2 separate regions of the Homo sapiens genome follow, and region 2 is linked to region 1. Evidence: fine-mapped expression QTL. A gene starts in region 1. The other region holds a variant in brackets. All regions are shown on one strand. Distances are between the middles of the regions.

Region 1 (5,520 bases):
AAATCATAAGTGTCCTGCTTGATGGATTTTCTCCTCATTTTTCAAAGTCCCATCATCCTCTGGTTATCCCAAAATCATTCTCTTCTTTATCTACCACAAATACCCAACTGTCTCTTTAAGGGAACTTCTTTGAAAACCTTAAGTGCTTCCTGCTTTCCTGTAATCCCAGCTACTCGGGAGGCTGAGGCAGGAGAATCAATTGAACCTGGGAGATGGAGGTTGCAGTGAGCCGAGATTGCGCCATTACACTCAAGCCTGGGCGACAAGAGCAAAACTCTGTCTCAAAAAACAAACAAACAAACAAAAAACAGTTTACACTTACTGAGCCCTTACCACAAGCTGAGCCCTTCGCTAAAGGCATTAGAAATAGCAACTCATTGACTTTTCGTATAATTTCCAAGAGGTACCTTCATTATTTGTGCTTGACAGATGTGGAAACAGAGGCACAGAGACAGTTAAGGGATTTGTTCAAGGTTACACAGCTAGCAAGTAGAGGAGTTAGCACTGGCCAGGCGCAGTGGCTCACGCCTATAATCTCAGCACTTTGGGAGGCCACAATGGGTGGATCACTTGAGGCCAGGAGTTCGAGACAGCGTGGCCAACATGGTGAAACCCCGTCTCTACTAAAAATACAAAAATTAGCCAGGCGTGGTGGCACACGCCTGTAATCCCAGCTACTCGGGAGGCTGAGGCAGGAGAATCACTTGAACCCGGGAGGCGGAGGTTGCAGTGAGCCAAGATCGTGCCACTGCACTCCAGCCTGGGCAACAGAACAAGACTCTGTCTCAGAAAAAAAAAAAAAAAGTTAGAATTGAAAGGCAAGTGATTTGGCACCAGGCATAGTAGCTCAACCCTGAAATCCCCAGCACTTTAGGAGACCAGGGTGGGAGGAGTGCTTGAGGCCAGGAGTTCGAGACCAGCCTGGGCAACACGGCAAGACCCCTAATTCTACGAAAAAAAATTTCAAATTACCCAGGCATGGTGGCACACGCTGGTAGTCTTAGCTACTTGGGAGGTTGAGGCAGGAGGATCACTTGAGCCCAGGAGTTCAAGGCTGCAGTGAGCACGATTGTGCCACTGCACTCCAACCTGCATTACAGAGTGAAACTTTCTCAAAAAAACTAAAATAAAGGCAAGTGATTTGGTTCCTGGTTAAGGCAAGCAGGCTGGAATGGAAAAGCAGCCATGGGCCGGGCGCAGTGGCTCACGCCTGTAATCCCAGCACTTTGGGAGACCGAGGCGGGCGGATCACGAGGTCAGGAGATGGAGACCATCCTGGCTAACACAGTGAAACCCCGTCTCTACTAAAAATACAAAAAATTAGCTGGGCATGGTAGTGGGCGCCTGTAGTCCCAGCCACTCGGGAGGCTGAGGCAGGAGAATGGCATGAACCCAGAGGCGGAGCTTGCAGTGAGCCGAGATCGTGCCACTGCACTCCAGCTTGGGCGACAGAACGAGATTCCATCTCAAGAAAAACAAAGAAAAAAAAGAAAAGCAGCTATGATCACCAAAGATCAGTCAGACCTAGAGGCCTCTTCTCTCATCCCGGAACGTGTACCTCATAGAACTTTTGGCTTTCCAGGATACTATACATATTAAGGTCCTGATATTAATTCACAGGTCCAGCATGGGATTCACATCCTCAAGGACATGGCCACCTGCACTTCTGAGTTGTCTTTGAGTGGCCCCAAACTGGATCTTTGCAGGTTCCAGACTAGTGGGGCTGGTAGGACAATCTTTGAAGCTAGACCAGTTACTGGGCCTCTCAGGAAGAGGCACCCACAACCACCATCCTGAACTAAGGTCTGAGCTGGAGGTTCTCCATTTGGTCAAGTGCCAGTTGGTGAATTCCAAGAGTATCAGAGATATCTGAAAGTGACTCAGACCCTCTATGGGACTATGGGTGGTCCTTTTGCTTATTTTTCTAATTGTTCTACAACAAAATGTGTTATTTTTGTGATTACAAAGAGTATATGTCTAGCGGCTGGGTTGCCAGGTGCATTCTATTTATTGGTATCACACTGGTCTTTGCTTTATAATTACAGTATTTGTTAAAATACAAATTTGTTTAAAGACTTTCCTCTGTGTATGCTCTCTTCCACAATTTTCAAAGTGTTTAATAAGGTGCACATATTTGGTTTTCTTTTTTTTCTTTTCTTTTTTTTGAGACGGAGTTTCGCTCTTGTTGCCCAGACTGGAGTGCAATGGCGCGATCTCGGCTCACCGCAACCTCCGCCTCGCGGGTTCAAGCGAGTCTCCTGCCTCAGCCTCCTGAGTAGCTAGGATTACAGGCATGCGCCACCACGTCTGGCTAATTTTGTATTTTTAGTAGAGATGGGGTTTCTCCATGTTGGTCAGGCTGGTCTCGAACTCCCGACCTCAGGTGATCCACCCGCCTCAGCCTCCCAAAGTGCTGGGATTACAGGCGTAGAGCCACCGATCCCGGCCTGTTTTTCAGTCTCTAATACACTGTTCCGCGTCCCTAGCATAGTAGCTGTTTTCTGTAAATTCGGAGCGAAGTTGACTGCAAAACCCGCCGGGTTCACCGGCCTGGGCGGTGTGGACTTCAAGCCCCAGGAGGCATTGCGGCCGGCACATCGGGAACTACGGCGTCTGAGAAGGGGGCCGGGCCCTCCGGTCCTTTCCCTCCCAGAAGCCCGCGGGCGGCTCGGAACGCTGTTTCTATCATGGCCGCGGGAGCCGGGACGGCGGGCCCCGCTTCCGGCCCGGGCGTCGTGCGTGACCCAGCGGCGTCACAGCCGAGGAAGCGGCCCGGCCGGGAGGGCGGGGAGGGCGCGCGGCGATCGGACACGATGGCGGGAGGAGGCGGGAGTAGCGACGGCAGCGGGCGGGCAGCTGGCAGGCGGGCGTCCCGCAGTAGCGGGCGGGCCCGGCGGGGGCGCCACGAGCCGGGGCTGGGGGGCCCGGCGGAGCGCGGCGCGGGGGAGGCACGGCTGGAAGAGGCAGTCAATCGCTGGGTGCTCAAGTTCTACTTCCACGAGGCGCTGCGGGCCTTTCGGGGTAGCCGGTACGGGGACTTCAGACAGATCCGGGACATCATGCAGGGTGAGGGCCGGGCCGGGGGAGGGGGGTTGGAGCGCCGGGGAAGGGGGTCCGGGGGACCGGGAGTCGGGACTGGGGGTCGCCCAGCCAACGATGTCTTCTCTCCCAGCTTTGCTTGTCAGGCCCTTGGGGAAGGAGCACACCGTGTCCCGATTGCTGCGGGTTATGCAGTGTCTGTCGCGGATTGAAGAAGGGGAAAATTTAGGTATGGCTATTTTTGTGTTCTTCTCTGGGCTTACTTGCGTAGGGTTTTGTTTTAAAACTTATATCTAGAACTGAAGGATTCCAGGTTAAAGTGCGATAGTTTCCATCAGAGTGGTCTTTTTCATTCTACGATGGGTCTGTTTTCTGGCTCGACTGGCTCTAGTTTTCTCCGGTTAAGGTTGTCTTGGCTGCTTTTCTGTGTTTTTTTTAAATCTTCTCCCACCTGTTAATTGCTCACCCCAACTTTGCTCCTGTCTAAAGTGAGTTATGTTCATATGGACATCTTTTTTCCCCCATGGTAGAGAGTTTTTCAGAGTGGAAGTACTCTGACATTTTTCCCCTCTGAATTTAACTTGAAAGCTATTTAGCTGTTGTCAGTTTCTTGCCACTCGTATCTGAGGAGGATGGGTATATTCTGAATTTGAGAGGCAAATGCAGGTATTTAAAAATAATTTTTTTGCCTGTCTTGACAGGTGTTAAAAAATGGTCACGTTAAATTCATTGATTTGAATTTGGACCCTTATCGTGTATGTCAACCTGTAGCAAATATGTCAAAAAATTAAATGCAAATCTTACCATATTTGCATGCTCCATTTCCATAAATATATATATATAATTTTTGGACATAACTTTTTTACCCTTAGAAAAGAGCTTAAAAATGAAAACTGTGCTTTGTCCTAGACTGTTCCTTTGATATGGAGGCTGAGCTCACACCACTGGAATCAGCTATCAATGTGCTGGAGATGATTAAAACGGAATTTACACTGACAGAAGCAGTGGTCGAATCCAGTAGAAAACTGGTCAAGGAAGCTGTAAGGCTCTATTTTTATATCTTTTTTCTTTGACCAAAAATCAAGGGTCTTTGAGGATACAGCACTTACTCTTTACTGTGTGGGGCAGAGGAAAACAGCAATGGGGAGAGATTGAGCAAGCAAGAAAGCACACACACAGACGTTATTTCTTCAGGTGTCTCCTTTCCCACCCAGGCTTGGGAAGTAATGGCAGTTGCTCAGTTTTTGTGATTTGGGTGGTCTTCCTTGTGGCTTTGGCATTGAAGCTCTGACATTTTGGAGGTTACTGCACCATTCGGGAGCACTCTACAAGGGCCTTAAGTAACTCTGGCCTAGGGTTTGGTCACCCTTGTTTATAATAAACCAAGGAGATAAACTGGGGCCTTGGAAAATGTGGTACTGACTTTGAGTTCTTTCTGTCTGCAGAAAGAGGGGCTTAGAGAATATCCCTTTTGAACAGATAGATTAGAATCAGAGGTGCTGGGATAATGAGCCAGCTAGCAAAATAGTAATGGTAGAAGAATGATAGAAATCCGGCACAGGCAGTGTTCTTGAATTCAAGAAAAAAGCTAATGGAGTGTCTAGGAATTTGGGATTGTCACTGTGTTGTGGCTCAGGTAGCTTCAAACAGTAGAAATTATTTTAATTTAAAACATAGAAGTGGCTGTGGGAACCAGTTAGAAAAAGATTTTTCTTCCCCCAAAACCAAGGCTGGGGGGTGTGGAAGCAGATGCAGAGGTGAAGATGGAAAACATCAGCTAAGCATTGCCCTGGTGGTAGAAAATAGGGAAATGGTTAAGAAAAGAGCACCCCTAAAAGGATGGGATCCCAAAGATGGGGGTGGGGTAGAAAGAAAAACCTTGCTTCACAAGGAAAACCTGTCTCTTGGCTGTGTACATTGTACTTGGGTACCCTATTAAAAAACAACTAGTGTGCATGAGGTGCACATATTTTATTTATTTAATTAAGGACCTTGGGCAGATACTACTTTTGGTCTGGTAAAGAAATGCTTAAATATTAGTCATTTCCAAGGAAGAATAATTTCAAGAGTACATTTTTAGTATAGGAAAATCAGGTTTAGGTTGAGGGGAGGCATATGCCAGAATAGACATTATCAAGGGAGGAGAAATTCATGCCTACTTTCAGAACTGTTAAGGATCTTTTGAATGGGTACCAGTTTAGAATAATTCATTTAACTTCTATTAAGTACACATTGAGTATCCCTTATCCAAAATACTTGGGAACAGAAGCATTTTGGATTTCAGATTTTGGAATATTTGCATTAAATTTAGTTTGAGCATCCCAAATCCAAAAATCTGAAATCCCAAATGCCCTCAAATCTGAAACTTTTTGAGTGCCAACATGGCACTCAAAGGAAATGCTCATTGGAGCATTTCAGATTTCGGATTTTCAGATTTAGGATGCTCAACCTGTAGCAACTCCTTTAGAACACAAGGGCTAT
Region 2 (5,000 bases), 23 kb after region 1:
TCTCATTTGATACAGGATCTCATTGGCTTCTCACAGCAATCCTGTGCACTATAGGTATTGCTCCCGGGAACAGATGAGGAAACAGGAGAGTGCGAGATTACAGTAATTTTGTAAATGGGAGGATTTGTGAAGGTTTCAGACATACACCCTCTCTCATATGTCAAGGATATGAAGTCTAATGAATCCCCTAAAGCAGCAGGGGTTGGCAAGCTGTGGCCCTGGGGCCAAATCAGCCTACTGCCTGTTTTTGTAAATAAAGTTTTATTGGAACACAGTCACACCCATCATCAATGTATTATCTAGGGCTGCTTTCTGTTCATTGGTAGTTTGTTGAGTAGCCACAGCAGAGACAGGCTTGCAAAGTGAAAATACTATCTGGCCCTTTACAGAAAAAAAGGGTCAGTGTCCCTGCTCTAAAGAAGTATGTGTGAGGTGCCCTGGCCACTTATGGGAAGAAAAGCTGAGCCTATTCAGCAAGGTTTTAGGTGGCTCAGATTTTATAGAGGAACAAACATTGAGCTGGCCTGGGAAGGATGAGCAGAAGGTCGTCGAGTGTGTTGGGGGCTGGGGGACTCTACGCAGTGGGAGCTCCTTACATACAGGCATGAGAAAGCCTGGTGTGCCCCTCAGAGTGTCATGGAGCCTATGGTAGGAGAATACGGTGCATAGGAAAGAGTGAAGGTAGGAGAGTCTGCATGCTAGATGGGCCAGGCCTGGGATTTCTGTAGTCTAGTGTGTCAGGCAGAGGCTCTCAAGCTGGGCTTCATGACACAATGACCTGTGGAATGCTCAAAAAATACATATTCCCAGGCTCCTGGCTACTGAATTAGAAGAGTCAGGAGAATGCCCTTTAATCTGCTTTTTAAACCATGCCCCAGATAATTCTAATACAACAAATTGGAAGGCCTGATGAGACCCCACTCAGGGAAGGGAGGGAGGGAGGCTGGAGACTGGAGACCGCTGCCAGGGAGCAGGGAGGGGCAGTGGGATCAGGAGGGAAGGCAGGGTTGGCAGTGTCACTTGGACAGGGCCACCATGCCCCAATCTTGTATCTCCCACGGCACCTTGCACATAGCATGTGTTTACTAGGTATTTATTCACCAAGTAAAATAAGGATTCTTTGTTCTTGCATGTTAAGGAGTGACACCCAAAACACCTGTAAAAAGCCAGCAGAGGGTAACATTTTAGGCATTTTGGGCCACATGAGTTGTCTGTCTGTTCCATATTCTTTTCTTGTTTTTTCTTTTTCTTTTTTTCTTGAGACAGGGTCTCGCTCTGTCACCTGGGCTGGAGTACAGTGGCACAATCTCGGCTCACTGCAACCTCTGCCTCCCAGGTTCAAGCGATTCTCCTACCTCAGCCACCATCCCCGCCCCCATCCCAGTAACTGGGACCACAGGTGCGTGCCACCGCACCTGGCTAATTTTTGTATATTTTGTACAGATGGGGTTTGACCATGTAGGCTGGTCTCGAACTCCTGGACTTAATAAGCGATCCACCTGCCTGGGCCTCTCAAACTGCTGGGATTACAGACGTGAGCCACTGCTCCCAACTGTCTTTTTTTGTTTTTTTGTTACAACCCTTAAAAAACGGGCTTGCCATTCTCACCCCAAGCTTCATGGTACACAAGCCGCAGCAGCCAGACTGTAGCTTGCCAACACTTGCTAGACCATTGCTCTTCATGTTCAAACTGCCAGTCAGGAGCACAAGGACCAGGAAGTGGCCTGACTTGGCCAGGACCACTCAGCCCATTACAGTTAGGAGGAGCGGCCAGATCTCAGCCCCATCCACTTGGGAAGTCAGGAGAGGCAGTGAACACATCACCTGAAAGTCAGAGGTCTTGCGAAATCACCACCAAAGCATGTATTTGTACAGGTAATAGTGCTGAGAGTTCAACAGAGGACAGGGAGAAGGTGACCTGTGAAGACTGTGCAGGGAGGGAGGACAGCCACTCAGGGAACATGACGGACCAGCTGGGGACTGAGGTTCCAACTGGTTTTATTCCAGCACTGGGATAAGCACATAGAAAACAAACTATAACCCCATCTGATTTTTATTTATGAATAGTCATTAACACAAGAATATCCTGAGAAGGAAAAACCTCCTGTAAAATGTTTTCACTTTGTCTCAAGTAAATTATTCTCAAGTAACATTTGGGGATAAGATCCAATGTAAAAACAAGAGAAAGTTAGGTCTACCATTTGTCTCAGCCACTTAGTTAAGTAATTTCATAGAAAACTTATGGAACTCAAGGAATTTTTTCAAGCCTATGTACTTATTCATCAACTTGCTTTTATTATTCATTTGCAAAATACCCAAACAGCATTAAAAATAAGTTTTTTCTTCATGGCGGGTGAAGAATACAGAAATTTGTCTCTATTCTTGGTTAACTTTTGCGGGTCATTTGATTTATATAAATTCCTCAAGACTCTGAATTCAGACACTTTCCATGTTTGTAAAAGATGTTATAATTCTGAGGTCAGATCTGTGCTTTGCTCTGTTCCCAGGGCAGTTATTAATCAGGTAAATGCAAAGTTGATTAGAAGAAATGGGCTATA[G/A]TTTTCATTGAATAATTTGAGTTTGGGGTTATTTTCAGCTTTTGTACTTTTTTTAGCCACACCCAAGCATTTAACGTTTCATGTTCACAAGAAGGATTCTTGTTTGCTTTTTACTCTAATCTTTGATGGTATAACTCCCTTGTGGCTCTCTGACAATCACAATGTTAGTTCAGCTAATATGTCTCCAGCTCACATTGGGGTCTGTGTTACTGTGCTGGGTATGCTATGTGTTTGGGATGGACAAAGGAAGATGTGGCCCCCGCCTTCGAGGCGGTCCTGGTTAGGGGCACACTGCAAAGTGGCACTTGGTATGGTGGAAACAGCACTGCAGGCAGGAGGAGAAAGGCTTTCTGTGTGTGTTGTGGTTGGTAGTTAGAGGAGGCTTCACTGAGAACCATGGCCTTGAAAGATGGATGAGATGTCACTTAGCAGGGAAGGGACTCCCAAGCAGAGGGGCTACAGAGAGGCAGGAAAGTACAGAGCTTATGGAAGGAAGAAAGAGCAGAACAGTGTGGCTGTGCTGTTTGCACAGGTGTGGGCATCGTGGGGCGGTTGGTTAGAAACTGACGGGCCAGACTGGATGGTGTGGACTCCCCCATACAGGCATATAGATGCCACTGTTCAGGCAGAGAGAAGCCATTAGGGAATAGAAGAGGCATGTGGTAATTTTAGGGTGATTGTCCTAAAATCATCTTTGGCTTTGGAAGGGGAAGAGCCTAGCGGCAGAGACTCTAGTTAAGAGGCTAGTGGAATACTGATGAAAGGCGCCGTGAGCTTGAACAAGGGGGAATGGAAACGGAAAAATCAGTCCAGATATAGGAAGAAGGCATGTCCAAGGAAGAGAGGGAGGGGTTTGCAGGTTCTAAATCAGAAAAATACTGAGACCTTTAAAAGAGTCAAAACCAAACAAGCAAAACAGGAAAATGAACAGATTCTTTAGAGGGGTGGTGATGTGCTTGATGTACTCAGTGCTGAATTTGAAGGGTGTCCTGCAGCCTGAGGGGTGTTACGTGGAGATGCCTGGCCAGCCAGGAGAAAGGACAGTGGCTTTGGGAGGTGCATGCAGGCGAACCTCGATTGTGGTCACAACGGGACAGGAAGGAGTACAGGGCCAAGAGTGAGCCAAGACCAGAATCTGGGACAATCCAGGGTGAATTTGTTTTATACCTGTGCTCTCCTTGATCTCCCCTCAGAGTACCCAAAGGCAAGTGGAACAGCTCTAATGGGGTTGAAGAAAAGGAGACTTGGGTGGAAGAGGATGAACTGTTTCAAGTTCAGGGTAAGCAGAAGATTCTCCTTGGCCTCTTCTTGATGCTTGCTGAAGTACAGATGCGTGTTACTGTCATGTTAATATTCCAGAAGCTGCTTGTCTCCGAACTAGAAAAAGTTCAGTAAGTTCCCGATCTCATTTTAATTCATGAAGAATCAGTTTTTTTTTTTTTTTCCTTTTTCAGACAGGGTCTTGCTCTGTCACCCAGGCCAGAATGCAGTGGTGTAAACATGGCTCACTGAGCTTCAACCTTCTGGGCTCAAGTGATCCTCCTGCCTCAGCCTCCTGAGTAGCTGGGACTGCAGGTGTGCACCACCACACCTGGCTGTTTTTTTCACTTTTTGTAGAGATGGGGTCTCACTTTGTTGCTCAGGCTGGTCTCAAACTCTTGGGCTCAAGCGATCCTCCCACCTCAGCCTCCCAGAGTGCTGGGATTACAGATGTGAGTCACTGTGCCCTGGTCAAGGAGTCAGTCTGATGTCCTCTCCCATTAAATAATGGAGACTGTCAGAGTAACGCCTTATGTTTAAAGAGAGTTCTTGGTTTTGTTTTAATAACGCCTATGATATTTAATTATAGTTGATGTTCTTCCTAAAATCCTTCAATTAGATGTGGTAGTAGGGGGTCATTCCCTGCATTTCTTGTTTAAAGAAAAAAAAATCTTAACAGTTTCTATATATAAATCCTTTTTTTTTTTTTTTTTTTTTGAGACAGGGTCTCACTCTCATCCAAGGTGGAATGCAGTGGTGTGATCTTGGCTCACTGTAGCCGTGACATCCTGGGCTAAAGCAATTCTCCCACCTTAGCCTCTGGAGTATCGGGGACTACAGGCCCTTGCCACCATGCCCAACTAATCTTTTTTTGTATTTTTAGTAGAGCCAGGGTTTCACCATGTTGGCCAGTATGATCTCGAACTCCTGGGCTCAAGCAATCTGTCTGCCTCATCCTCTCAAAGTGCTGGGACTATACTTGTGAGCCACCATACCATACCCTACCAAAATTGTTTTCTTTTTTTCTTTTTTTTTTTTGAGATGCAGTCTTACTTTGTTGCCCAGGCTGGAGTGCAATGGTGCGATCTCGGCTCACTGCAACCTCCGCCTTCCAGGTTCAAGTGATTCTTATGACTCAGCCTCCTTAGTAGCTGGGATTGCAGGTGTGTCGCACCACGCCCG

Evidence for each region.
Region 2: its variant is fine-mapped to the expression of TERF2 in whole blood (INTERVAL, PIP 0.94).

What each region holds. Positions count from the first base shown.
Region 1 is chr16:69,383,139-69,388,658 of GRCh38, reverse strand. TERF2 (telomeric repeat binding factor 2) reads left to right here and starts at 2,652. Exons shown (of 10, transcript NM_005652.5): 1 at 2,652-3,066; 2 at 3,173-3,268; 3 at 3,949-4,079. The coding sequence starts at 2,688. RefSeq lists a silencer at 2,657-3,036.
Region 2 is chr16:69,360,241-69,365,240 of GRCh38, reverse strand. It overlaps TERF2 (telomeric repeat binding factor 2), which reads left to right. Exons shown (of 10, transcript NM_005652.5): 8 at 3,752-3,837. Among named protein-coding and RNA genes, the nearest start is that of TMED6, 11 kb to the right of the region's middle. The variant G/A (reference allele first, on the strand shown) is at 2,559.